Regions from separate parts of the Homo sapiens genome. Here regions 1 and 2 are each linked to region 3. The links come from fine-mapping of genetic effects on gene expression. A gene starts in region 3. Each other region holds a variant in brackets. All regions are shown on one strand. Distances are between the middles of the regions. Region 1 overlaps CFAP251 (cilia and flagella associated protein 251). Region 2 overlaps LOC124903037 (a long non-coding RNA gene). Region 3 holds the start of BCL7A (BAF chromatin remodeling complex subunit BCL7A).

What was found. PIP is the estimated chance that this variant, and not a neighbour inherited with it, causes the effect.
Region 1: its variant is fine-mapped to the expression of BCL7A in whole blood (INTERVAL, PIP 0.98).
Region 2: its variant is fine-mapped to the expression of BCL7A in testis (GTEx, PIP above 0.99).

The regions. Positions count from the first base shown.
Region 1 is chr12:121,984,475-121,992,652 of GRCh38, reverse strand. All of the region lies in intron 19 of CFAP251 (cilia and flagella associated protein 251), which reads right to left. Among named protein-coding and RNA genes, the nearest start is that of BCL7A, 33 kb to the left of the region's middle. RefSeq lists enhancers at 387-486, 1,569-1,618. The variant T/C (reference allele first, on the strand shown) is at 3,249.
Region 2 is chr12:121,378,937-121,387,114 of GRCh38, reverse strand. All of the region lies in intron 1 of LOC124903037 (a long non-coding RNA gene), which reads right to left. Among named protein-coding and RNA genes, the nearest start is that of RNF34, 17 kb to the left of the region's middle. The variant G/A (reference allele first, on the strand shown) is at 4,115.
Region 3 is chr12:122,017,821-122,025,998 of GRCh38, reverse strand. It overlaps BCL7A (BAF chromatin remodeling complex subunit BCL7A), which reads right to left and starts at 4,115. Exons shown (of 6, transcript NM_001024808.3): 1 at 3,816-4,115. The coding sequence starts at 3,907. RefSeq lists silencers at 1,827-1,916, 3,397-3,556, 3,707-4,026, 4,157-4,236 and an enhancer at 2,747-3,562.

The sequences.
Region 1 (8,178 bases), 33 kb after region 3:
TGAGCCGTGATTGTGCCACTGCACTCCAGCCTGGGCAACAGGAGTGAGGAGTAAGACCCTGTCTGAAAAAGAAAAAAAAAAGAAATAATATATATAAATATATATAAATTACCAATGTAATATATGATTTAACTCAGTTCAGAACAGGAGACTAAGACGACAAAAGGAATTCATAAGGGCCTGAGTTACTCATACCCAGAGAGTTCCAAAGAGCTCAGCAAACATTCACAGCACAAACCACTCAGCATGTGATTCACCTCTTACTCTCTCTTCCCGTATGACTGATCAAGAATCACTACTCAACAAGCACGGAGTTGGCAGCTTCGGCATCACTGACATTTCCTTCCTGAGCCGACTTCGCAAGTGTTCGTTGAAAAGGCAGGTTCTGCTACTTGTCTGAACAAAGTTCATGCTTGGGAGAGGAACCTCGGAGCTGGAAATAGAACGCAGAGCTTGTTCTGAACGCCCCCGTGTGAAGATGGCTTGAGAGAAGCAGGAGTCCTAGCTGAGCGGCCCAGACGCACTGGTGGTTGTCAGTCAGCCTGGCCTTTGATTGGCATTCTCACGCCTGCTAAGGCGGGGCTTTATTCCATTCACCTGGAGAGCTTAAACAGTTCTGAGGCCCAGATCCTATTCCCTGAGAACCTGATTTTTTTTTTTAGATGATAGTCTCACTCTGTCGCCCAGGCAGGAGTCCAGTGGCGTGATCTCGGATCACAGCAACCTCCACCTCCTGAGTCCAACCAATTCTCCTGCCTCAGCCTCCCAAGTAGCTGGGACTACAGGCGCGCGCCACCACAGCTGGCTAATTTTTGTATTTTTAGTAGCAACAGGGTTCCTACTGTTGGCCAGGCTGGTCTCAAACTCTTGACTTCAAGTGATCTGCCTGCCTCGGCCTCCCAAATTGCTGGGATTACAGGAATGAGCCACCACAACCAGCTGAGATCCTGATTTAATTGGTCTGGGGACCAAATTTTTGGAAGCTTCTCATTCGAATGATTTGAATGCGTAGCCAAGCTTGAGAAACATGGCTGGAAGGCAAAGGCTCGCTGACATGTCAGGCTTCACAATGACCGGGAGGTCTTGTTCAAACAGACTGCTGGTCCCACCTGGGGGGTTTCTGAGTCTGGGATAGGGTCTGACCATTTGCATTTCTTGTAAGTCCCTAGGTCACGTGAAGTCAATCCTGTTGGTCTGGGGACCACACTTTGAATACTGCTGCTCTTAGACCACAGGGGTTCACGGAGGTGATACTGGTGCCAAAATGAATCAGCCCCAAGCTTGTGACTTTCAGTAGAGAGTAATAATGGGTGGCAGCTGCGGTGCACGCTCTAATTCTTTGGGCTCACATCTGTTTTCCCCATTAAGCTGTAGCCAGAGCTTTCATCTCTATTTCCCCGGCAGCTTAGTTCAGAGCCTGGCACATTATAGAGGCTCAGAGAAATGTTTACTGAATGGATAGATAGATGGATGAATGGATGAATGAATGAATGATGAAGTAAATAATGTGGACACAAGTGAGGCCACAAAAAGAATTCTCTTGAAACTCACAAGAAGCTTAGAATAATCATTTAGTGCCCTAGTTAATTTTACTCGATTTACTAGTAGTTACTGAGCATTTGGTTTAGTGCAAAGCCAATGAAATACAAGTCTCTCAATTATTACTAGAACAGTTCTGCATTCTGGTTTTCAATCTTAGTCACTGGGGTCAGCAAATATTTATTCAGTGTCTATTAAGGTCTGGGCCATGTGAAGAGATGCTCAAGAGACGATATACACAAGGAAAGCGAACTAACAGGCTCCATCGCCAAGGTCCTCAGCCCTGGCTGCCTGGGGCTTTAAAAACTGTCCATGCTTAGACTCCACCCCTAGGTTCTGTTGCACAAGGCTGGGGCCCAGGTGTAAAAATCAGGTGTAAAAATACTGATGTATTTTTTTAAGTGCCCTCAACTGATTTTAAAAGGTTGGCTACCGTGGCTCTAGAAGATTCAGTGCCAAGATGCAGGAGAACATCATCAAAGGTTGGAGGAGCTCTCAGCCAGGTGGGCTTCGGGAAGGCTTCCTGGAAGAGGTGGGCCTACTGCAGAGCCATGAAGGGTTTGGCCAGTAGGAGGTCAGAGGAAGACACTGTATGCTGGGAAACAAGCATGAGGAGGAGGGTGCAGAGGAGGTGCCCACCCCGAGCCCATGCACCCAATTCTAGACCACACTCTGGGTACCTGAACCCGAGGCTTCTCTCCCCTACATAACCTAAGCCCACTTCCGGGGCCCATGGGGATCTCACCCTCCTGAGGCCAACCTGTGCCCCTGGTGTTGCCCACCCATAGGCCTGAAGGGTGCCCCGGGGCTGCTGTTTGGAGAGTATAGAGAAGGGTCCACCTCCTGAATGCCATGCACACAGTGGCCAGGGATGGGGTCAGAGCTGGGAGGACACATGGGGCAGGCCCAGCTTGGCTTGGCCCTGCATGCTGCCCATTCGGGTGTGAACTTTGAATCAGCTCATGTTGAAGGTTGAACTGTCAAGGGGGAATATTTATTTATCAGCTTGTTGCTTGATTGGTAACTTTTAAACATTTAGACATACAGCATCTGGGCCTCTGTTGCCCCGACTGCTCCAGGCCCCAAGACATGAGGGTGGCCTCTTGGTGGTGGGCTGGAGTCCCCTCACCCGAGAGCATCTTATTTCTGCCTCTGTCATTGATGACGCAGGCCTTTGGGTCTGTGATCCCTGCTGTCAGCCTCAGGAAGCCATTGATGTCCTTAGAATTATGTTCTATAATTAAGTTTTACAACCTCCCTATTAAATGGAGAGGAACACGATATATTTGAACTGGGGCCATTCCTTGTTTTTATAAGCAGGCTCCTGGTGGGGGCAGGTTTGCTTTTCTAATGGTTTCATGGACCAGTAGGACTGGGAGCACTCACCCTCTTCCCCACGCCCTCTTCCCAACGCACAATACCCTCTAGAACATTCTCAACTAATGGGGCACAGTGTCTTGTTCCCACTCATCATCTTCACTCATACCCTCCCCTGGTCACCCCCTGCATCTCCTCGCTGACCCGGGGCAGGGAGTAGTGGGCTGAGGAGGGGGCGTAAGGGCTGGGCAGCGTCACTGCATGGCCACATCTGGAGACCCCTGTGAGCGCCCCCTCTGCGATTCATGCAACACTGTGACCCCAACTGCTCCATACCTCCCTCCAGGAACTAGATCTGGATGGCGACTGCCTCTTTTTCCAGGAGTGGGGCA[T/C]GCATGCACAGTTCTGCCCTCTGGACGCAGTCTCAGGTGACAGCAGCCAAGGCCTGGCCTGGTGCTCTTGCCCACTGTCTTCTACTCCATGTGAACAACACCCATTCACAGGGCCCTTTAGAGTGACTGTCACCCTGCCCTGCATCAGAGCCCAGGTCTCAAACACCTCCAGGGACTCTTCCCTTCCCAGTGAATGTTTTCAAAGGTCTGAAAGAGACAGTCCTAGCTGAATGACAAGTCTTGCACCTTGTACCAAACCCACAATCAAGGATTTGCTAATTCTGTGTCCACAGCTCTCTAAAATCCTGATCCTGCCTCATGCACCCTAAAGCCCCAGATGGTTCCTAGCTCAAGTGAAGAAGTGATGTGGGCCGGGCACCGTGGCTCACATCTGGGATCCCAGCACTTTGGGAGGCCAAGTTGGGTGGATCATTTGAGGTCAGGAGTTCAAGACCAGCCTGGCCAACATGGTGAAACCCCATCTCTACTAAAAATACAAAAATTAGCTGGGCGTGGGGGCGGGCACCTGTAGTCCCAGGTACTCGGGAGGCTGAGGTGGGAGAATCACTTGAACTTGGGAGGCAGAGGCTGCAGTGAGCCGAGATCGCGCCATTGCACTCCAGCCAGAGGGAGATTTCATCTCAAAAAAAAAAAAAAGAGAAAAAAAAGAAAAAAAAATCCAACAACAACAAAAAACTTGCACACGAATGTTCACAGCAGCCTTATCCATAATAGCCAAGAAAATGGGAAAACGTAAATGTCCATCTGTTCGTGAATGGATACATAAAATGTGGCATATCTACATGAACGAATAGAATGTTACTCAATCATAAAGAAAAGAATGAAGGACTGAGACAAGCTACAACCTGGATGAACCTGGAAAACATGATGCTGAGTGAGTGAAAGAAGCTGGACCCAAAAGACCACATATTTCATGACTCCATTTATATGAAATGCCAAGATAGGCCAATCCATAGAGACAGAAAGCACATCGGTGGTTGAAGGAGAAATGGGAAGTGAGTGCTCATGGGTCTGGGGTTTCTTTTTGGGATGATAAACATGTTCTAGGATTACGTGGTGGTGATGTCTGCACTACTCGGTGGACATTCTAAAAACCAATGAACTGCATCCTCTAAACAGGTGAATTACGTGGTATGTGGTATATCTCAATAAAGTTTTTTTTAAGAAAAGAAAATAAATAATATGGAGAAGCCATGGCAATGGCAAGTAACAACATTTCGATTCTAAGAACATTAATTTAATATTTTTGAAATATTTTTAAAAATATTTAAAAATATTTAAAATATTTTTAAAATATATCTTCCACCATCATTGTGATCTACCCTTTTATATCATAAAACCAGTCAAGAGTGAAACATGCTTGTTATGAAAAATTCTAACAATGGAGATATAAAGAAAAATAATAATAAAATGCCCTGAAATTCCCCGTCCTGCAGCAATAACCAGTGTTGGATGCCAGAATTTTTAGGGTTTTCTTCCTTCTTTGTACCAACTCATACATACGTAGGAACAGAACCTGGAGTTGGGGGTCAGCCAGCTTGGTTCAAACCCTGGCTGTGCCCTCGGTAGCTAAGTGACTATACAATCTTTCTTCTCTCTCTAGGCCTCACTTTCCCAGAATGGTATTATGCATTACTATTACCTGTATTCTTTTTTTTTTTTTTTTTTGAGACGGAGTCTCGCTTTTCTTGCCCAGGCTGGAGTGCAATGGTGCCATCTTAGCTCACTGCAACCTCCGCCTCCCGGGTTCAAGCGATTCTCCTGCCTCAGCCTCCCGAGTAGCTGGGATTACAGGTGTGCGCCACCATGCCTGGCTAATTTTTGTATTTTTAGTAGAGACAGGGCTTCACCATGTTGGCCAGGGTGGTCTCGAACTCCTGACCTCAGGTGATGCGCCCACCTCAGCCTCCCAAACTGCTGGGATTACGGGTATGAACCACCAGGCCTGGACTCTATCGCCTGCATTCTTTTTAATGGCTGCATAGTAATCCAAGATTTATTTCTTTAAATGCTTTACATGTGAAAAGCAGAAATAGTTTTGTCTTGCTCTGATCTTTCTGCAGGAAGCCCACCTCTCGCTGGGCAGGGGCCTGGCCACGGACTCTCTGTTGGCCAGGAAGGCCTCCCCTAGAACACTGGGCCACTTCTATTACCTTCAGGATGGAAATGCCTGCTGATATTTACGTTTCAGGGCAAGACCCAACATACTGAGGGCTTCTCTTCAAAGTGCAAATTTCCAAATTCCCTCGGGGTCTTTATCAGAACAGAAATTGTCCCTGTGCTTCTTGGCTCAAATTACCCCCCTCGTTATGGGTGAGGCTGAACCACTTGGCTACAGACCTCCATCCCAGCTGGGACCCTGCTTTAGCCATGAAGATTAGCACACAGGGCTTTGGGGGGATTTGCTTGTTTATCTTTCTCGTTTTTGTTCTGAATACAAAAGCAACACAAGCTGCATGTTTATAGTTAGGAGAACTTAAATAGTACAGAAATGTATGTCCGAGGTCTCCCCAAATTTATAGCCACAACTGTCTCCTAAGGAGGGCAGATGCCACTGAATGAAACGGCCTTTTATTTATAGAACCCCTAGATGGGCTTTTTTTTTTTTTTCTTTTTCTTTGAGACAGAGTCTCACTGTGTTGCCCATACTGGAGAGCAATGGTGCAATCATGGCTCACTGCAGCCTTGACCTCTGGGCTCATGTGATCCTCCCACCTCAGCCTCCTGAGTAGCTGGGACTTCAGGCGTGAGCCACTACATCCAGCAATTAAAAAAAAAAAAATTCGGCTGGGCGCGGTGGCTCACATCTGTAATCCCAGCACTTTGGGAGGCCGAGGTGGGAGGATCACGAGGTCAGTGATCCTCTGATCACTGTAGAGACGGTGAAACCCCGTCTCTACTAAAAATACAAAAAAAAAATTAGCCAGGCGTGGTGGCGGGTGCCTGTAGTCCCAGCTACTCAGGAGGCTGAGGCAGGAGAATGGTGTGAACCCAGGAGGCGGAGCTTGCAGTGAGCTGAGATCGTGCCACTGCGCTGCAGCCTGGGTGACAGAGGGAGACTCGGTCTCCAAAAAAAAAAAAAAAAAATTCGTGGCCAGCCATGGTGGCTCATGCCTATAATCCCAGCACTTTGGGAGGCCAAGGTGGGAGGATCATCTGAGGTGAGGAGTTCGAGACCAGCCTGGCCAACATGGCGAAACCCCATCTCTACTAAAGATACAAAAAATTAGCTGGGCATGGTGGCACTGCGGGTAATTCCAGCTACTCGGGAGGCTGAGACAGAAGAATTGCTTGAATCCAGGAGGTGGAGGTTGCAGTGAGCCGAGATCACGCCATTGCCTACCAGCCTGGGCAAAACAGCAAGACTCTCTCAAAAAAATAATAATAATTTGTAGAGACAAGGTCTCACTACGCTGCTCAGGCTGGTCTTGAATTCCCAAGGACAAGCGGTCCTTCCACTTTGGCCTCATAAAGTGCTGGGAATACAGGTGAAGAGACACAGTACCAGGCCAATCTCACTTGTAGGTGTGCCTTATTTTATTAATCTCATCTCCTATCAATGGATATCAGTGTTGTTTTGATTTTCAACACAATAGACTATGTGACAACAATTGTCCCTTCAGGTCAAGTACAGGTTTGGAGGGCCTGTAGTCCCAGCAACTAGGAAGGCTAAAGCAAGAGGCTTGCCTAAGCCCAGGAGTTTGAGACCAGCCTGGGCAACGTAGTGAGACTCCATCTCAATATTTATATATATTATATATTTAAAATTATTCCTTCCATATGTACATCATTATAAACTTGGGTGAGTTTTTCTGTAGGATACACTCCCTTTTTTTTTTTTTTTTTTTGAGATGGAGTCTTGCTCTGTCGCCCAGGCTGGAGAGTATGGTGGCACCATTTCAGCTCACTGCAACCTCTGCCTCCTGGGTTCAAGCGATTCTCCTGCCTCACCCTCTGGAGTTGCTGGGATTACAGGCATGCACCACCATGCCCAGCTAATTTTTGTATTTTTAGTAGAGACGGGGTTTGGCCATGTTGGCCAAACTGGTCTCGAACTCCTGACCTCAGGTGATCCTCCCACCTCGGCCTCCCAAAGTGCTGGGATTACAGGCGTGAGCCTCCGCGCCTGGCCAGGATACACTCTTAAAAGTACATTTGTTGAGTCAAAAGATATATACATTTTTAAAGTTAAGCAAAAAATAAATAGCAAATAAAATAAAAAGTTAAGTGACTATTTAATTCCTTTCTAAATGCTCCTAAGCTATGCCCAAGCTCCTGAATATATCAAACACATTAGGGTTACTAAGAATTACACTGAGATCAAATAATAATGTCAGGGATTGTGTCTTCCTCACTGTCTCTGCTGTCGAATATGACCAATGAGCATCATTGATTCATTCACTCATTCCATCAACATTTGCCAAGCGTCCACCATGTGGGCACTTGCTGGGCACATACGTCTCTACAGGATTAGACTTAAGTTTACAGAACTAGGTGGTTGCACCAATGTTAATTCCCTGCCCAAACCTGTCAAGATTATACAACACTCTGCAAGCTAAAAAGAAGTGAAGTTGCAAGTAAGCAGGAAACGAATGATATGCTGGGCCCCATCCCAACGTGGACAGTCCAACATCCTGGAGGAAAAGACACATTTATAAAGATAGAGGATGGAACTGCCTTGTATGTGAAATCATCTGTAGAAACGATGACACCTAAGCTATGGTTCCTTTGATAACATTATACATGCTGCAGATCTTTCATTTAAAAATGATTTCTAGGCCGGGCGCCGTGGCTCACACCTTGTAATCCCAGCACTTTGGGAGGCCAAGGCAGGCGGATCAGGAGGTCAGGAGATTGAGACCTTCCTGGCTAACACCGTGAAACCCCGTTTCTACTGAAAATACAAAAA
Region 2 (8,178 bases), 640 kb after region 3:
AAACATGGCTCACCACAGCCTTAACCTCCTAGGCTCAAGCAATCCTCCTGCCTTAGCCTCCTGAGTAGCGGGGACCATAGGCACATGCCACCATACCCAGACAATTATTGAAAAAAGTTTTGTGAGACAGGGTCTCCCTATGGTGCCTAAGTTGATCTCAAACCCCTGGGCTCAAGTGTTCCTCCCACCTCAGCCTCCCAAAGTGCTGGGATTACAGGTGTGAGCCACCACACCTGGCCTTCATCTTCTTTATACATTTCAAAACCTAGCACATAATAGACAACTTAATAAATATGAATGAATGCATAGAATATTGATAGAATGGATAGAAAACTGCTGGGTATGGTGGCTCACGCCTGTAATCCCAGCACTTTGGGAGGCCGAGGTGGGCAGATCACCTGAGGTTGGGAGTTCGAGACCAGCCTGACCAACATGGAGAAACCCCGTCTCTACTATAAATACAAAATCAGCCGGGCGTGGTGGCAGATGCCTGTAATCCCAGCTACTCAGGAGGCTGAGGCAGGAGAATCGCTTGAGCCCGGGTGATGGAGGTTGCAATGAGCCAAGATCGTGCCATTGCACTTCAGCCTGGGCAACAAGAGTGAAACTCTGTCTCAAAAAAAGAAAAAAAAAAAAAGAAAACTGCAGTGATTACATTAATTTATTGGGATATTTTAGAGATTAACATCACTGACTGTAATAAAAATAGTTAAGAGGCAAAATATAGAAGTCTCCTGTCTCCTTGAGCCTTTGTTCACCCCTGTGCTGGTAATGAGACCTTTCTGTTGAAGTTACAATTCAAGGATTAGGCATTCCATCCCCAATAACAGTTGGCAAAAGTCAAAATAAATATTTTTGGATTCCACAAAATTTGAATTTCACACTGAAGTGATTCAATTTTAAAACATATTTACTTCAAGTCAAGTGTCCAAGTACCATATAAGTAATATCATCTCAAACAGCTACAGAAATGTGAAAATACATTTCAGACATTCACCAACAGACGTCACTGATACGTTGCAGTTATCGTATTTAGCATAAGCTTCAGGTATTAAAAGTAGGCCAGGTGCGGTGGTTCACGCCTGTAATCCCAGCATTTTGGGAGGCCAAGGCGGGCAGATCACTTCAGGTGTGGAGTTTGAGACCAGCCTGTTCAACATGGTGAAACCCTGTCTCTACTAAAAATACAAAAATTAGCCGGGCATGGTGGCGCATACCTGTAATCCCAACTACTTGGGAGGCTGAGGCACAAGAATTGCTTGAACCTGGGGAGGCAGAGGTTGCAGTGAGCCGAGATCACACCACTGCACTCCAGCCTGGATGACAGAGTGGGATTCTGTCTCAAAAAAAAAAAAATGTAGATTAAGTCAACTCTCCCCACCCTCTTGAGAAGTGCTGACAAGGTCGAGAAGACGATAAATGGGACTAAGCCTTTTTTCAAAGATCATAATCAACACATTTATTAAAACCTTGATTGTGTGTAGTGCTATGCCATGCTAAATGATTCACACAGAGAATTAGCTAAACCTTGCCTCTCTCCTCTAACAGTTTACAATCCAAGGCAGACAGGCTGACGCTCTTGCACATTTATAGCCAAATTAGACAGACGCAATGAAATACGAACATTATCAACTGATAAATGAATAAAGTAGACATTCAGGGAAGGAGACATTCAGATGGTTGTGATAAGAAGAGTTGCCTTGAAAATTCCAATTTCAGACTATGCAGGATAAAAAGATTAGTACTCTTATCCATCACCACCTTCATTTACAATCATGTAAGAATATACATGTGCCTAGGCTGGGCACGGGGGGCTCATGCCTGTTATCCCAGCACTTTGGGAGGCCGAGGTGGGTGGATCACAAGGTCAGGAGTTAGAGACCAGCCTGACCAACATGGTGAAACCCCATTTCTAGTAAAAATACAAAAATTAGCCAGGCATGGTGGCGTGCGCCTGTAATCCCAGCTACTCAGGAGGCTGAGGCAAGAGAATTGCTTGAACCCGGGAGACAGAGGTTGCGAAGAGCCGAGATTGCACCATTTGCACTGCAGCCTGGGCAACAGAGTGAGACCCCATCTCAAAAAAAAAAAAAAAAAAGAGATACATGTGCCTAATAATTGTTCCCAAAAATGTCAACCTTTGTCCATCCTCATTCTGAAACCCTTACACCTTCTAGAGTCACAATACTTGTAGCAGTACTTTTTTTTTTTCTTTTTGAGACAGGCTCTTGCTCCATTGCCCAAGCTAGAGTGCAGTGGCAAGATCATGGCTTACTGCAGCATTGACCTTCCTGGCTCAAGTGATCTTCCCCCCTCAGCCTCCTGAATAGCTGGGACTACAGACACCATGCCTGGCCCGTTTTTTTTTTTTTTTTTTTTGTAGAGACAAGATCTCACTATGTTACCCAGACTGGTCTCAGACTCCTGGCCTCAAGCAATCCTCCTGCCTCGCCCTCCCAAAGTGGTGGGATTACAAGCATGACCCACCATTCCTGGCTGCCTGTAGTAATTTTGTAAGACTATAATTTCAAATGGTATTCTTGAACACACATCTGACTATGTCTTTGCTAAAAGGTTAATAAAATAGCCTTTTCTTTTCAGCACTGCTGCCAAGATTTCCAAAACAGCTCTTTTCATCTTGTATTGAATTTTTTTTTGTTTCAACTGATTCAATTCTATTTAATTCTTATCTCCCCTACTTCAACTTTTTTTTTTTTTTTTTTTTGAGACAGAGTTTCGCTCTTGTTGTCCAGGCTGGAGTGCAATGACAAGATCTCAGCTCACTGCAACCTCCACCTCCCAGGTTCAAGCAATTCTCCTGCCTCAGCCTCCTGAGTAGCTGGGACTACAGGTGCACACCACCACACTCGGCTAATTTTCATGGTTTTTTTAGTAGAGACGGGGTTTCTCCATGTTGGCCTGGCTGGTCTCGAACTCTTGACCTCAGGTGATCCACCTGCCTTGGCCTCCCGAAGTGCTGGGATTACAGGCCTGAGCCACACCACCTGCTGAAGCTAATTCTTTAGAATGGCCCCTTTAATTTGAATGGCTAATTATTACACCATTAGACGCTTGAAAAAAATACTTTTGGCCAGGCGCGGTGGCTCAGCAGTACACATATGCAGGTGTGTATATTGATATGACACTCATAGAAGAGTTCTAGGAATTTGCTCGATATGTTTATAGCTGGGTGTGAACTGATAGTCCCGAAGCTGAAAGTGGAAACTCCAGTACCTAGATTCAGATCCATGTTTCAAGTCGCTCTGAATATCACTTTTTTTTTTGTTTGAGACAGGGTCTTGCTCTGTTGCCTAGGCTGGAGTGCAGTGGCACAGTCACGGCTCACTACAGCCTCCACCCCTGGGCTCAAGCGATCCTCCTGCCTCAGCCTCCTGATTAGCTGGAACCACCAGTGGGCGCCACCACACCTGGCTAATTTTTGTAATTTTTGTCGAGATGGAGTTTTGCCCTCTTGCCCAAAATGGTCTGGAACTCCTGGGCTGAAGCAATTCTCCCACCTCAGCCTCCCAAAATGCTGAGATTACAGGCCTAAGCTACCACACCTGCCTGAAAATTATCTTTAAAATGACCTCAGATGCCTGGCTGAGTAATGTGTAGGTACTAGAATAGGCACAGGGGTGCCATAAAAAATGTTAGTAGATGAATGACATAATCCAAGTTTCTTGGTTTTCGTTGTTTTTCCTGTAAATGAATGACCCCTAATAGAAATTTTCAGTTCATGACTGTTAATGGGGATGGGGGAGAAATGTCCAGATCTGTTGTAATCCTTAGCTTTCTAAAATTCTTGCCCAGCCTCTAAAGCACTGCTCTCCAAATCTTATTATGTCTAAGAATAGAAATATCCTGGAGCGCTGACCTGATAGAAGTATTTTTCAGTTGTTTGATAGTGTTCACCTCGACTCTTATTAGAAGAGAGGGTAGCAAAGATTGGGATGCCTTTCCAAAAATATCGAAGCCTTTATCCAATATGGAATCACTGTCCCACAGCAGTGAGAATTACCTTAAGCAAAGTTATCTTGCTTAGAAAGTTGACTATAAAGACGGCTATGAGGACCGAAATCTTAATTTTCTTTTTTTTTTCTGATTACAAAAG[G/A]AAAATGCATTATTGTAGAAATATAGAAAAGTGTACAAAAGAATATTAAAATTACGATTCCACTACTTAAAGATAAGCAGTACCAGCATTTTGATGTACATCTGACAATTACAACAGCCAGACTTAACATTTACTGAGTCTTCTAATTTTTTTTTTTTTTGAGAAAGAGTCTTGCTCTGTCGCCCAGGCTGGAGTGCAGTGGCGGCATCTCAGTTCACTGCAAGCTCCACCTCCCCGGTTCACGCCATTCTCCTGCCTCAGTCTCCCCAGCAGCTGGGACTACAGGCGCACGCCTCCATGCCCAGCTAATTTTTTGTATTTTCAGTAGAGACGGGGTTTCACCGTGTTAGCCAGGATGGTCTCCATCTTCTGACCTCGTGATCCGCCCACCTTGGCCTCCCAAAGTGCTGGGATTACAGGCGTGAGCCACCGTGCCCATCCGAGTCTTCCAATTTTTAAAAAGTATGCTGGCCAGAGGCCGGGCATGGCACACAGCTGTAGTCCCAGCTACTCGGGAGGCTGAGGCAGGAGGATTGTTTGAGCCTAGGAGGCAGAGGTTGCAGTGAGCCGAGATTGTGCCACTGCACTCCAGCCTGGGCAACAGAGCTCGACTCCTTCTCAAAAAAAAGAAAAAAAAAAAAGCTAAGCACTATGCGTTAGAACACAGATGTTCTCATTATTTTAAAGACATGGGGGTCTTGCTATGTTGTCCAGGCTACATTCAAATTTTTCCAGAGAATGGGTGTATCAATTTGCATTTCTATTGGTTTTGTATAGAAACAGCCCAATTCTCTGCACTCTGATCAGCGCTTATTAATTTACTCAAATCTTGGCCAATACTGTGTCTATTTTATTTATTTATTTGAAATAGGATCAAGCTGGGCATGGTGGCTCATGTCTATAATCCCAGCACTTTGAAAGGCCGAGGTAGGCAGATCACCTGAGGTCAGGAATTCAAGACCAGCATATAGCCAACATGGTGAAACCCCATCTCTACTAAAAATACAAAAATTAGCCGGGCATGGTGGCAGGCAACTGTAATCCCAACCCTAATCCCTCTAATATTCTGGAGGCTGAGGCAAAAGAATTGCTTGAACCCAGGAGGTGGAGGTTGCAATGAGCAGAGACAGTGCCACTGCACTCCAGCCTGGGAGACAAAGCGAGACTCCGTCCCCACCCCCCCAAAAAAAAAGAAATAGAATCTTACTCTGTCACCCAGGCTGCAGTGCAGTGGCACAATTACAGCTCACTGCAGCCTCAAACTCCTGGTTTCAAGCAATCCTCCCACCTCAGCCTCCTGAGTAGCTGGGACTATAGGTACGTGCCACCACATCTGGCTAATTAAAAAAAAAAAATTTTTTTTGAGACAGAGTATCACTCTTTCACCCAGGCTTGAGTGCAGTGGTGCGATCTCTGCTCACTGCAACCTCCACCTCCTCGGTTCAAGTGATTCTCACGCCTCAGCCTCCCCAGTAGCTGAGATTACAGGTGCCTGCCACCATGCCCGGCTAATTTTTGTATTTTAGTAGAAATGGGGTTTCACCATGTTGGCCAGGCTGGTCTCTAACTCCTGACGTCAAGTGACCCACCTGCCTCAGCCTCACAGCATGTTGGGATTACAGGCATGAGCCACCACGCCCGGCCAAAAATTTTTTTTTGTAGAGGTAGAGTTTTGCTATGTTTCCCAGGCTGGTCTTGAACTCCTGACCTCAAGCAACCCTCCTGCCTCAGCCTCCCAAAGTGTTGGGATTACAGGTATGAACCACCATGCCTGGCTTTCTGAGTCTAAATAATGGCATTTTTCTTATTTTGATTTGCATTTCTTTTATTTTTGGTAGAGTTAAACATTTTTCTTTTTCTTTCCCTCCCATCTTTATTGAGGTGTAATTGACAAATAAAAACTGTATATATTCACGGTGTACAATATGTTTTGATATATTTATACACTGTAAAATGATCACCACAGCCAGGCGTGGTGGCTTATGCCTGTAATCCCAGCACTTTGGGAGGCCGATGCGGGCGGATCACCTGAGGTTGGGAATTCGAGACCAGCCTGACCAACATGGAGAAACCCCGTCTCTACTGAAAATACAAATTCAGCCAGGCGTGGTGGCCCATGCCTGTAATCCCAGCTACTTGGGAGGCTGAAGCAGGAGAATCGCTTGAACCCGGGAGGTGGAGGTTGCAGTGAGCCCAGATGGCACCACTGCACTCCAGCCTGGGCAACAAGAACAAGAGCGAAACTCGTTGTCAAAAAAAGATCACCACCGAAAGGCTAATTAACATATCCACCACCTCATGTAATTACCGTTTTTTGGTGGCAAGAACACTAAGTTCTACTGTGTTAGAAAATGTCAAGTATACAATACATTGTTATTATTATTTATTATTATTTTTTTGAGACGGAGTCTTGCTTTGTCGCCCAGGCTGGAGTGCAGTGGCACAATCTTGGCTCACTGCAAGCTCCACCTCCCTGGTTCACGCCATTCTCCCGCCTCAGCCTCCCGAGTAGATGGGACTACAGGCGCCCGCCACCATGCCTGGTTAATTTTTTGTATTTTTAGTAGAAATGGGGTTTCACCATGTTAGCCAGGATGGTCTTGATCTCCTGACCTCGTGATCCACCCGCCTTGGCCATCCAAAGTGCTGGGATTACAGACGTGAGCCACCGCGCCCGGCCTACATTATTATTAGTTACGGTTACCATATGCTATATTTTTGATCTCCAGAATTTATTTATCTTATAATTGAAACTTTCCTTTGACCAAAATTCTCCTGTTTCTCCCTCCCTATGGCTCTTGTCAACCAACCTACTCTCGTTTCTATGAGTTAGACTTCTTTGGATACCACACATAATGAGATCATGCAGTGTTTATCTTGAGTTGAACTTTTTTTTTCCATCAAGCCAATTGTTTTAGCGTCTTTATGTATTTTAGAAACAAATGAGAATTGTAATGTCAAGGCCTTCAGCATTGACTAGTTTGGAGCTAACTCTTAGAATACAAAAAGGTAGTTCCTGGCCGCGCACAGTGGCTCACGCCTGTAATCCCAGAACTTGGGAGGCTGAGGCAGATGGATCACTTGAGGTCAGGGGTTCAAGACCAGCCTGGCCACCATGGTGAAACACCATCTCTACTAAAAATATAAAAATTAGCCAGGCACAGTGGCACATGCCTGTATTCCCAGCTACTTGGGAGGCTGAGGCAGGAGAATCACTTGAACCTGGGAGGCAGAGGTTGCAGTGAGCTGAGATTACTCCACTGTGCTCCAGCCTGGGCAACAGAGCAAGATTCTGTTTCTTTTTTTTTTTTTTTTTTTTTTGAGATGGAATCTTGTTCTGTCATCCAGGCTGGAATGCAGTGGCACAATCTTGGTTCACTGCAGCCTCTGCTTCCGGGTTTTAAGCAATTCTCCTGCCTCAGCCTCCCCAGTAGCTGAGATTATAGGCACGCACAACCACGCCTGGCTAATTTTTGTATTTTTAGTAGAGGCGAGGTTTCACCATGTTGGCCAGGCTGGTCTCGAACTCCTGACCTCACATGATTCACCCACCTTGGCCTCCCAAAGTGCTGGGATTACAGGTGTGAGCCACAATGCCCGGCCGAGACTCTGTTTCCCAAAAAAAAAAAAAAAAAAGAAAAAAAAGGAATTAGCATTCTACTCCTAAGTATATACTCAAAAGAACTGAAAACATATACTAGAACAAATACTTGTACATGAATGTTCATAGCAGTGCTATAAACAAGAGTCAAAAGACAGATATATCCCAAATTTCCATCAACTGATGAATGGATTAAAACATTGTGGTATATATACACAACAGAATATTATTCAACCATAAGAAATGAAGTACTGATACATGTTACAACATGAATGAATCTGGGTAACATTTTACTAAGTCAAATAAGCCAGAAACGAAAGGTCACATACTGTATCACATCCCCCCCTTGTTTTTGCAGGGACAGGGTCTTGCTCTGTTGCCCAGTCTAGTCTCAAACTTCTGCCCTCAAATGATCCTCCAGCCTCTGCTTCCCAAAGTGCTAGGCTTACAGGCAGGATTCACC
Region 3 (8,178 bases):
CGTGCCCGGCCTTTTCTCTTTTCTTTCTTCTTTTTTTTTTTTTTTTTTTTTTGAGATGGAGTCTTGCTCTGTTGCTCAGGCTGGAGTGCAGTGGCGCGATCTCGGCTTACTGCAACCTGCGCCTCCCAGGTTCAAGCAATTTTCCTGCCTCAGCCTTAAGAGTAGCTGGGATTACAGGCGTGTACCACCACATCCAGCTAATTTTTTGTATTTTTAGTAGAGACAGGGTTTCACCATGTTGGCCAGGCTGGTTTCCAACTCCTGACTTCAGGTGACCTGCCTGCCTCGGCCTCCCAAAGTGCTGGGATTACAGGCATGAGCCACTGCGTCCAGACTAATTTTTCTTTTTTCTTCTTCTTCTTTTTTTTTTTTGAGATGGAGTCTCGCTCTGTTGCCCAGGCTGGAGTGCGGTGGCGCAATCTCCGCTCACTGCAAGCTCCACCTCCTGGGTTCCCGCCATTCTCCTGCCTCAGCCTCCCAAGTAGCTGGGACTACAGGCGCCCGCCACCACGCCTGGCTAATTTTTTTGTATTTTTTTAGTAGAGACGGGGTTTCACCATGTTTGCCAGGATGGTCTTGATCTCCTGACCTCGTGATCCGCCTGCCCGGCCTCCCAGAGTGCTGAAATTACAGGCGTGAGCCACCGCGCCCGGCTCTTTTTTTTCTTTTTCTTTTTTTTTGGTTTGAGACCCAGGCTGGTCTCAAACTCCTGGGCTCAAGCAATCCTCCTGTCTCAGCCTCCCAAAGCTCTGGGATTACAGGCGTGAGCCACCGCAGCGGGCCTCCAAGCTTACGCTGCAGCCCAAGCTTTCGTCTCCTACCATCGCCCTGGGGTCTTCTCTCCTCCACCAGCACAGGGCCCCCAAACCCTGGCCCAGTTTCCCAAAAAGAGGCCCACCATTTTGTTTTCCCTTTAGCCATCTTCTGGTCACCTCACCTCCACTGGCCTGCCTTGCTGAAACACCAGAAAAAGAGAACAGGAGGCAGCCTGCCCCAAATGAGAGGGAGGCCACAGCTTTTTCCGGGGGTGGGGGAAGCATCAGGGGACAGTGGGTGGGTCGGGGGGGTAATTTTAGGGGTCACTAGGGCTGAGGAGAAACCCACCCAAGGCTCATGGGGCCAAATGATCTGCCAAACACTTCGGCTTCCCTCTGGGTAAAATACAGGGTGCCCTGTTAAATTTGCATTTCAGATAAATTAGATAATGTTTTAGTATAAGTGTGTCCCAAATATTGCATGAGACATACTCAAAAACATTTATTTTTAAAAAAATCTTTCATTGTTTATCTGAAATTCAAATTTAACTGGGTGTGCTGTATTTTTATCTGGTTAAACCTGGCAACCCCACCCCCCCACCAGTGGTGAAATGCATGGTTGGTGACCACACAATTAATAAACAACCCACAGTCTCATGGGCTGAGTCTAAGACCCAATCCGAAGGCGCGGGGAAGGTGAGATATGGCTTCTCAGGGGCCAGAGAAACCTGGGCAATAAGTCCAAGGCTTTCGCTTAGAAGGGGCCAAAAAAAAAAAAAAACAAAAAACCTCAAAGCCAAGTTTCTACAAAGTCCACCTTACAACACAGACAACACTGAGCAACAGCTCCTCCTGCGCCCAGGGCGCGGTGCTCTCGGAGGCATGACCTCAATCGTCCTCAATAACCCGAGGGGACCTGGAAGCCAAGCACAAAACCCCGGGTCACCATGGTTAGAGAAGTGACAATGATATGCCCAAGGTCGCGGCAACGAAGTGAACTGGAAGCTGGACCATGAGATCCCAAAGCCTGAGGTCTTCAGAGGACACGATGTGTTGTTTCCCCAAACCCAGGGAGGCGCAGAGGTACAGCCCCTCAAGCTCCAACTACAGGCCTGGTCCCCGCGGGGTCAGCGGGCTGGAAGGCCTCCAGGCCGGCCGCCCCGGGGCCCGCGGGGTGGGAAGCCCCATCTCTCCATCTGCCCTCCCTGCAGAGCAGCTGGCCGCTCTGCGGGAGCAGCTGTCAGGGTGCAGGAGCCTCTGTCCAGCCGGGAACCTGGAGTAGGAGGCCCCACCACGCCTCCTCGAGCAGAGAAAGGCGGCTTGCCGGCTGTTTCCCAACCTCCAGGCCGGCGACAGAAGGGACCCAGGCACAGACACCAGTTCTTTCTTTGCACAGGGGCTGAGGCAAGGAGGGGAGCAACTCCGGGCTTCCCGCGGGGAATCCCACAGTAGAGGGGGCTGCGGGTTGTTTTCCAGCGTGTGTGTGTTGGCCTGCAGCTGTTTCTGCCATTTTTAAATGGCTCCAGTCGGGCACCGGGCACCCTGTGTACCAGGGGAGCTCCCGAGACACCGACGACTTGGATCTCAACTTTGGAAAGCCTCCCCTTCTCACGGTTCTGAAAATTCTTTGTCCCACTGGAGCCAAACCCAGCCCACGGCCGGGCATCCGGCCATCGCAGCCAGCCCTTTCCATAGGAGGCCGGGGAGCACGTGGACTTTATTGATTTTCCTCTTGCCTTTTTTGTTGGGTTTGACTCAGAAAGGACAGCTAACTTGTGACACCGCCACACCGGAGGCTCGCCCCCAGTGGCTTTTAGAGACCGAGGCGCTACTCGAGAAACGACACCCCCAAACGTAAACATCCCCTGCCACAGGGCCTGCCCAGCTTCCAGGCTCGAAATAAAGGGTCGAGACGAGCCCGCGGGCGCTGACACTCAGAGCCAGCGTTGCGGCGGCTCCTCTCCCTCCGGGACCCCAGTGAAGGCGTGGGAAAAAAATAATAAAGTTGAAATCAGGCAGCGGGGAGTTTTCAACAACTCTGACCCAACCTGGCGATCTGCTTGCGCCTCGGGCCTGGCCCAGGGGCCGATTCCGAGCAGACCCCGACGAGGCCGCGGAAAGGTTCGATCCCCTTAATGTCGACCGGGCCACGCCGGGCGGACGCTAATGTGATCCCGAAAACCACGCGCGGCCGCCACCAAGTCCCCCTCTCCCCGGTGCAGAGAACAAAAACAACAGCTCCCTCCGCAAAACAAACACGAGCTCCCGGTGTGGAGAGGCAGCCGCGGCCCAGGACGAACGGCTTCTGGCCAAAAACATCGGCTGGCCCGAGCCCCCCGCCCGGGGCGCCGCGCAGAGCGGGGTGGGACGTGGGCGCCCCGCGCCCCTGGCCGCTGGCTCCCAGCGCTCGCCCCCATCTTTCCTGGTCGCCGAGAGCCCTCGCTCCAGGCAGCCCAAAGCGCTAAATTTAAACGGCTCGCGCTCTGCAAACTCCGCAGACTCGAGGGCGCCGGGCCCGGGAGGCGGGAGCGGGCGGCCGGGCGGGCCGGGGCTGGCGGAGGGCGGCGGGGCGCGGGCCGGGGTGCGCGGGGAGGAGACGGCGGCGGCGGCCCGCTCGGAGCCTGCACAATGGAGCTCGCGCTCTCCCCGCCGCCGCCGGCATCGCGGCCCCGGCGCGCGGGAAGCCGCTTTCATGTGACTTGCACAAAACGAAATGGCTTCTGGGGCCGGCCCCGAGCCCCCCTCCCGGGAGCCGAGCGCCGCGGCGGGGGCCGCCCCGCCGCTCCAACCGCCTGGCCCCGGCGCCCGCCGCCTCCGGGCCGCCGCGCCAGGTGGGCTACAGGCGCGAGCGCACCTGGGCAGCGGCCGCGGCCCCAGCCTGGCGCAGGTGACCCGGCTCGCGCGCCGCCCGCCCGTCCGCCCGCCCTCGCCAAGTCCCGGGGCCCGCGGCGGGGCTGGGCCGGGGCAGGCGGCCGGGGCGCTGCGCCCCGCGGCTCTCTGGAGCCGCGCTCGGGCTCGGGGCGGCCGGGGAGGCGGCTGGCGGCGGGCGCCTCCGCTTACCATTTGCGCACTTTCTCGATCGCCGCCATGACCCTCTTGATATCATCTTTGGCCCGGCTCCTCGTCTCGGCTCGAACCGACCTGCCCGACATGGTTCCGGCGGGGAGACGGAGGCTGGGGAGCGCGCCCGCCGGGTCCTGCTCGCGCTCCGCGGCGGCCACACTCGCGCCCGCCCGCCGCTCACTCACTCGCGCACAGACACTCGCACTCTCACACGCACACACTCACACACACACACACACACACACACACATACACACACACACAAAGCCCGGGGCCGCCGCGCGCCTGGCCCAGTGCGCAAGCGCCGGGCGGCAGCTGCACAGAGCAGGGGGAGCCGCGCCGCCGCCGCCGCCGGCAGTGCGGCCTCCGGGCGCCGCGGCCACCGGGCAGCGCCCCCGGGCCTCCTGCGCCCCCAGAGGGGACGCCCCGGACGCCCTCCTGGGGAGGTGGCGAAGGGCGCACGGCGACCCCCGGCTCTGGGCGCGCGGTGGGGGCGGGCGTGCGGACACGCGCGCTGACCCTTCCTCGGAGGCTGCAGGTGCCGAGGGGTCCATGGGAGACAGCCGGTCTGCGGGGCGCGGGGGGGTCGCGTTCCCCGGGAGCCAGCCCAGCTGCCCCTGCCCAGCCCCCAGAGCGCGGCGGCGGGTGCAGTCGTGCAAGTTTCTTGCGGGTCTCTTGACTTCTCCGAGTTGAAGGCACCGGTTCGGGACGCGAGGTGCTCTTGGAAAGAGTTGGGCATCGCGCATCTCTGCTGGCCCGCGGCCCTGTTCAAATGCGAGCTAGGACGTCGCCTGCCCCAGGCTTTGTCCTTTTGGAAAACTAGGGTTGTAGGAAGGTGCCTGGTGCCAGGCAGACCACCAGAGACTCTCGACCTTGAGTACTAAAGAGTTTTCTGCTCAGCAAAAGCTCAATGATGATCAGCATCGTAACAGGGACTCTTCCTCCCGCCCCCAGAAGTTCTCTTGTCATAAACAAGGCGAGGGGGTCTTCGCTGAGCTTCACCAGAGGACCACGATTTCACCTTAAGCCATTCCTGACTTCAGTACCAGACTGAGACCAGGCGCTGCTACTGCCCAAATGACCCCTGGTCCCATCTACAAGGAGCACTTTTGAGGCCTCAGAACAGAGCCCCGGGGAGAAATCTGCGATGATCAGGGTAACCTGGGTGCCGCATCTTGCTGTTCAGCTGCAGCGGAACCGGCCGGACCAGAGCTAATGCGCGCCCAGAATGAAGAGGGAGACCGAGAGTGGCCCAAATGTCAGCGCCCCGGGCCTGGAGATGACAGCCCGACAGCAGCCATTTCACAGCTGGGGAAACTGAGTCCTGGGAAAGTTTAAGGTTGCAGCCTTAAGTTGTTACTCATTCTAGACGTTTCCCCTGAGGGTTTGGTCTTTGGGGAACACGCTACTGTGGAAATGGAGAGACCGCAGGCCTTTTCCTAGGCATTTGTTTTTACTATTCTGAAACGCAGTCTCCTGACGTGAAAAATGAAGAAAAGAACAAATACTGGCCGGGCGCGGTGGCTCATGCCTGTAATACCAGCACTTTGGGAGGCCGAGGCGGGTGGATCACTTGAGGTTAAGAGTTCGATACCAGCCTGGCCAACATGGTGGGTGAAACCCCGTCTCTACTAAAAATACAAAAATTAGCCGGGCGCGGTGGTGGGCTCCTGTAATCGCAGCTACTCGGGAGTCTGAGGCAGGAGACTCGCTTGAACCTGGGAGACGGAGGTTGCAGTGAGCAGAGATCCAGCCACTGCACTCCAGCCTGGGAGACAGAGTGAGACCCTGTCTCAGAAAAAAAAAAAAGGCCGGGCGCGGTGGTTCATGCCTGTAATCCCAGCACTTTGGAGGCCGAAGTGGGCAGATCACGAGGTCAGGAGTTCGAGACCAGCCTGGCCAACATGGAGAAACCCTGTCTCTACTAAAAATACAAAAATTAGCTGGGCGTGGTGGTGCAGGCCTGTAATCTGAGCTACGCGGGAGGCTGAGGCAGGAAAATGCTTGAACCTGGGAGGCAGAGGTGCAATGATCATGCCATTGCACTCCAGCCTGGGCAACAGAGCAAAACTGAATCTCAAAAAAACAAAACAAAACAAAATAAAACAAAACAAAACAAAAAAAGAAAGAGAGAAAGAAAAAGAAAAAAAAGAGAAAGAGAAAGAAGGACTTCAGAGAATCGTTCCGAGAATTTTCTGGGAAAATATGCAACAGCAGGTCATAAAACAGATCTCACAGAGATATGTGAGATCAATAGGTATGTGCTTTGGGCCACATGAAACTTTAAAAAAATGTATCTTAAAATTTAAAATAGGAAAATATTATGTCAGAATTCAAATAGTGACTGAGGAACAGATAAATGTGTCTATCCACACAATGGAATATTATTCAGCCATAAAAGGGAATGAATACATGCTACAACATGGGTGAACCTTGAAACACGCTAAGTGAAAGAAGCCAGTCACAAAAGGATAAATATGCGTAAGTCCATTTGCGGGAGATATCTACAACTAGGCGAATCCATAAAGACAGATATCAGATTGGTGGTTGCCAGAGGCAAGGGGGAGGGAGAGCAGGAGTGACTGCTAACGGATGTGGGGTTTCCTTTCGGAGTGATAGGAAAGTTCTGGAATGAGATAGTGGTGATGGTTGCAGAACAATGTGAATGTACTTAATGACGCTGAATTGTACACTTTTAAATGGTTACAATGGTCAATTTTATGTGTATTTGATCATAATAAAAAGAAATCTAGGCTGGGCGCGGTGGCTCACATCTGTGATTCCAGCACTTTGGGAGGCCGAGGTGGGTGGACTGCTAGAGGCCAGGAGTTTGAGACCAGCCTGGGCAACATGGTGAAACCCCATCTCTACAAAAAATTCAAAAAATAGCCAGGTGTGGTTGTGCGCATCTGCAGCCCCAGCTGCTCAGGAGGCTGAGGTGGGGAAGATGGCTTGAGCCCAGAACGTAGAGGCTGCAGTGAGCCAAGATCATGCCACTGCATGAAGCAAAGAAAGAGAGAGAGAGAGAGAGAGAGAGAAAAGAAAGAACGAAAGAAAGAAAGAAGAAAAGAGAGAGGGATGAGGAGAAGGAGAGAGGGAGGGAAGGAAGAAGGAAGAAAAAGAGGGAAGGAGGGAGGGAGGAAGGAAGGAAGGAAAAAAAAAAATACCCAGCTTCTCTAGAACCAGCAGATCTGCAAACTGGACCCTCAGTGCCACATGGCACCCATCGGCTAGAGCAGAGAGCTCTGTCTGTATCTTTCAGACAGAGTTATCTGGGTCACCAGTGCACTCATAGCCACTTTACTCATTTGTGTTACCTGTCTGGCCCCTGAAAGTATTTGTGATTTTGATCCCCAATAAAACCATAAAGCTTTCTTCAAATGTCCTTTGTAAATCTAGTATGTCACTTTTAGTAGTTTCCTGTCTCCTGCAGGTATTTTTACACTTCTTTCTTTCAACAAAGCACAGTAGTTTTACAGCCTGTGTCTGATGATTCTAGTATTTGAAGTCTCCAAGAGTCTGTTTCTGCTAGGTCTTGCTCATGGTGTCATAGTTCCTTGTTATATGCCTGGTTCTCTTTGACCATGCTGGACACTATTTTAAAATTTATTCATAGGGATAATTTGAGGCCTCCCCCTAGAAATAATTTATATTTGCTTCTGCCAGGCCCCTCAGGTCACTGCTAGTCTGGGGTGACCTCAATCCTAGTTCAGGGTTTGTGAGCCCCCGACCACTCAGGTGATGCGAATCCTGGCCGCATAGTTGTGCAAGACTGGTTGACTTCTTGTAGTCTGAGGGTGGAGCCAGGGATGTGCTGCAGATGGTTTACAGGCTTCTGCTTCCCAGCTCTGTGTTTAGTGACCTCATGCTGAGAGTTTGGAATCAGCTGTGGAGGGAGTATTTACACCATGGAAATCGGCAAATGATTTATACATCAGGACCCTCCTTCCCCAGCCCCAGCCAGAGCTGGTGGTTGAACATTTACCAGCATACCATTGGTGGAGTCCGACAGGGCCCAGATTATCGTGGGAAAGGACTCCCGCTTAGTGTGAGTCGTGGATTTTAATTTTCTGGCCTTTTTTTGATTGAGACGGAGTCTTGCTCTGTCACCTAGGCTAGAGTGCAGTGACGTGATCTCAGCTCACTGCAAGCTCCGCCTCCTGGGTTCACACCATTTTCCTGCCTCAACCTCCCAAGTAGCTGGGACTACAGGCGCCCGCCACCACGCCTGGCTAATTTTTTGTATTTTTAGTAGAGACGGGGTTTCACCGTGTTAGCCAGGATGGTCTCGATCTCCCGACCTCGTGATCTGCCCACCTCAGCCTCCCAAAGTGCTGGGATTACAGGCATGAGCCACCGC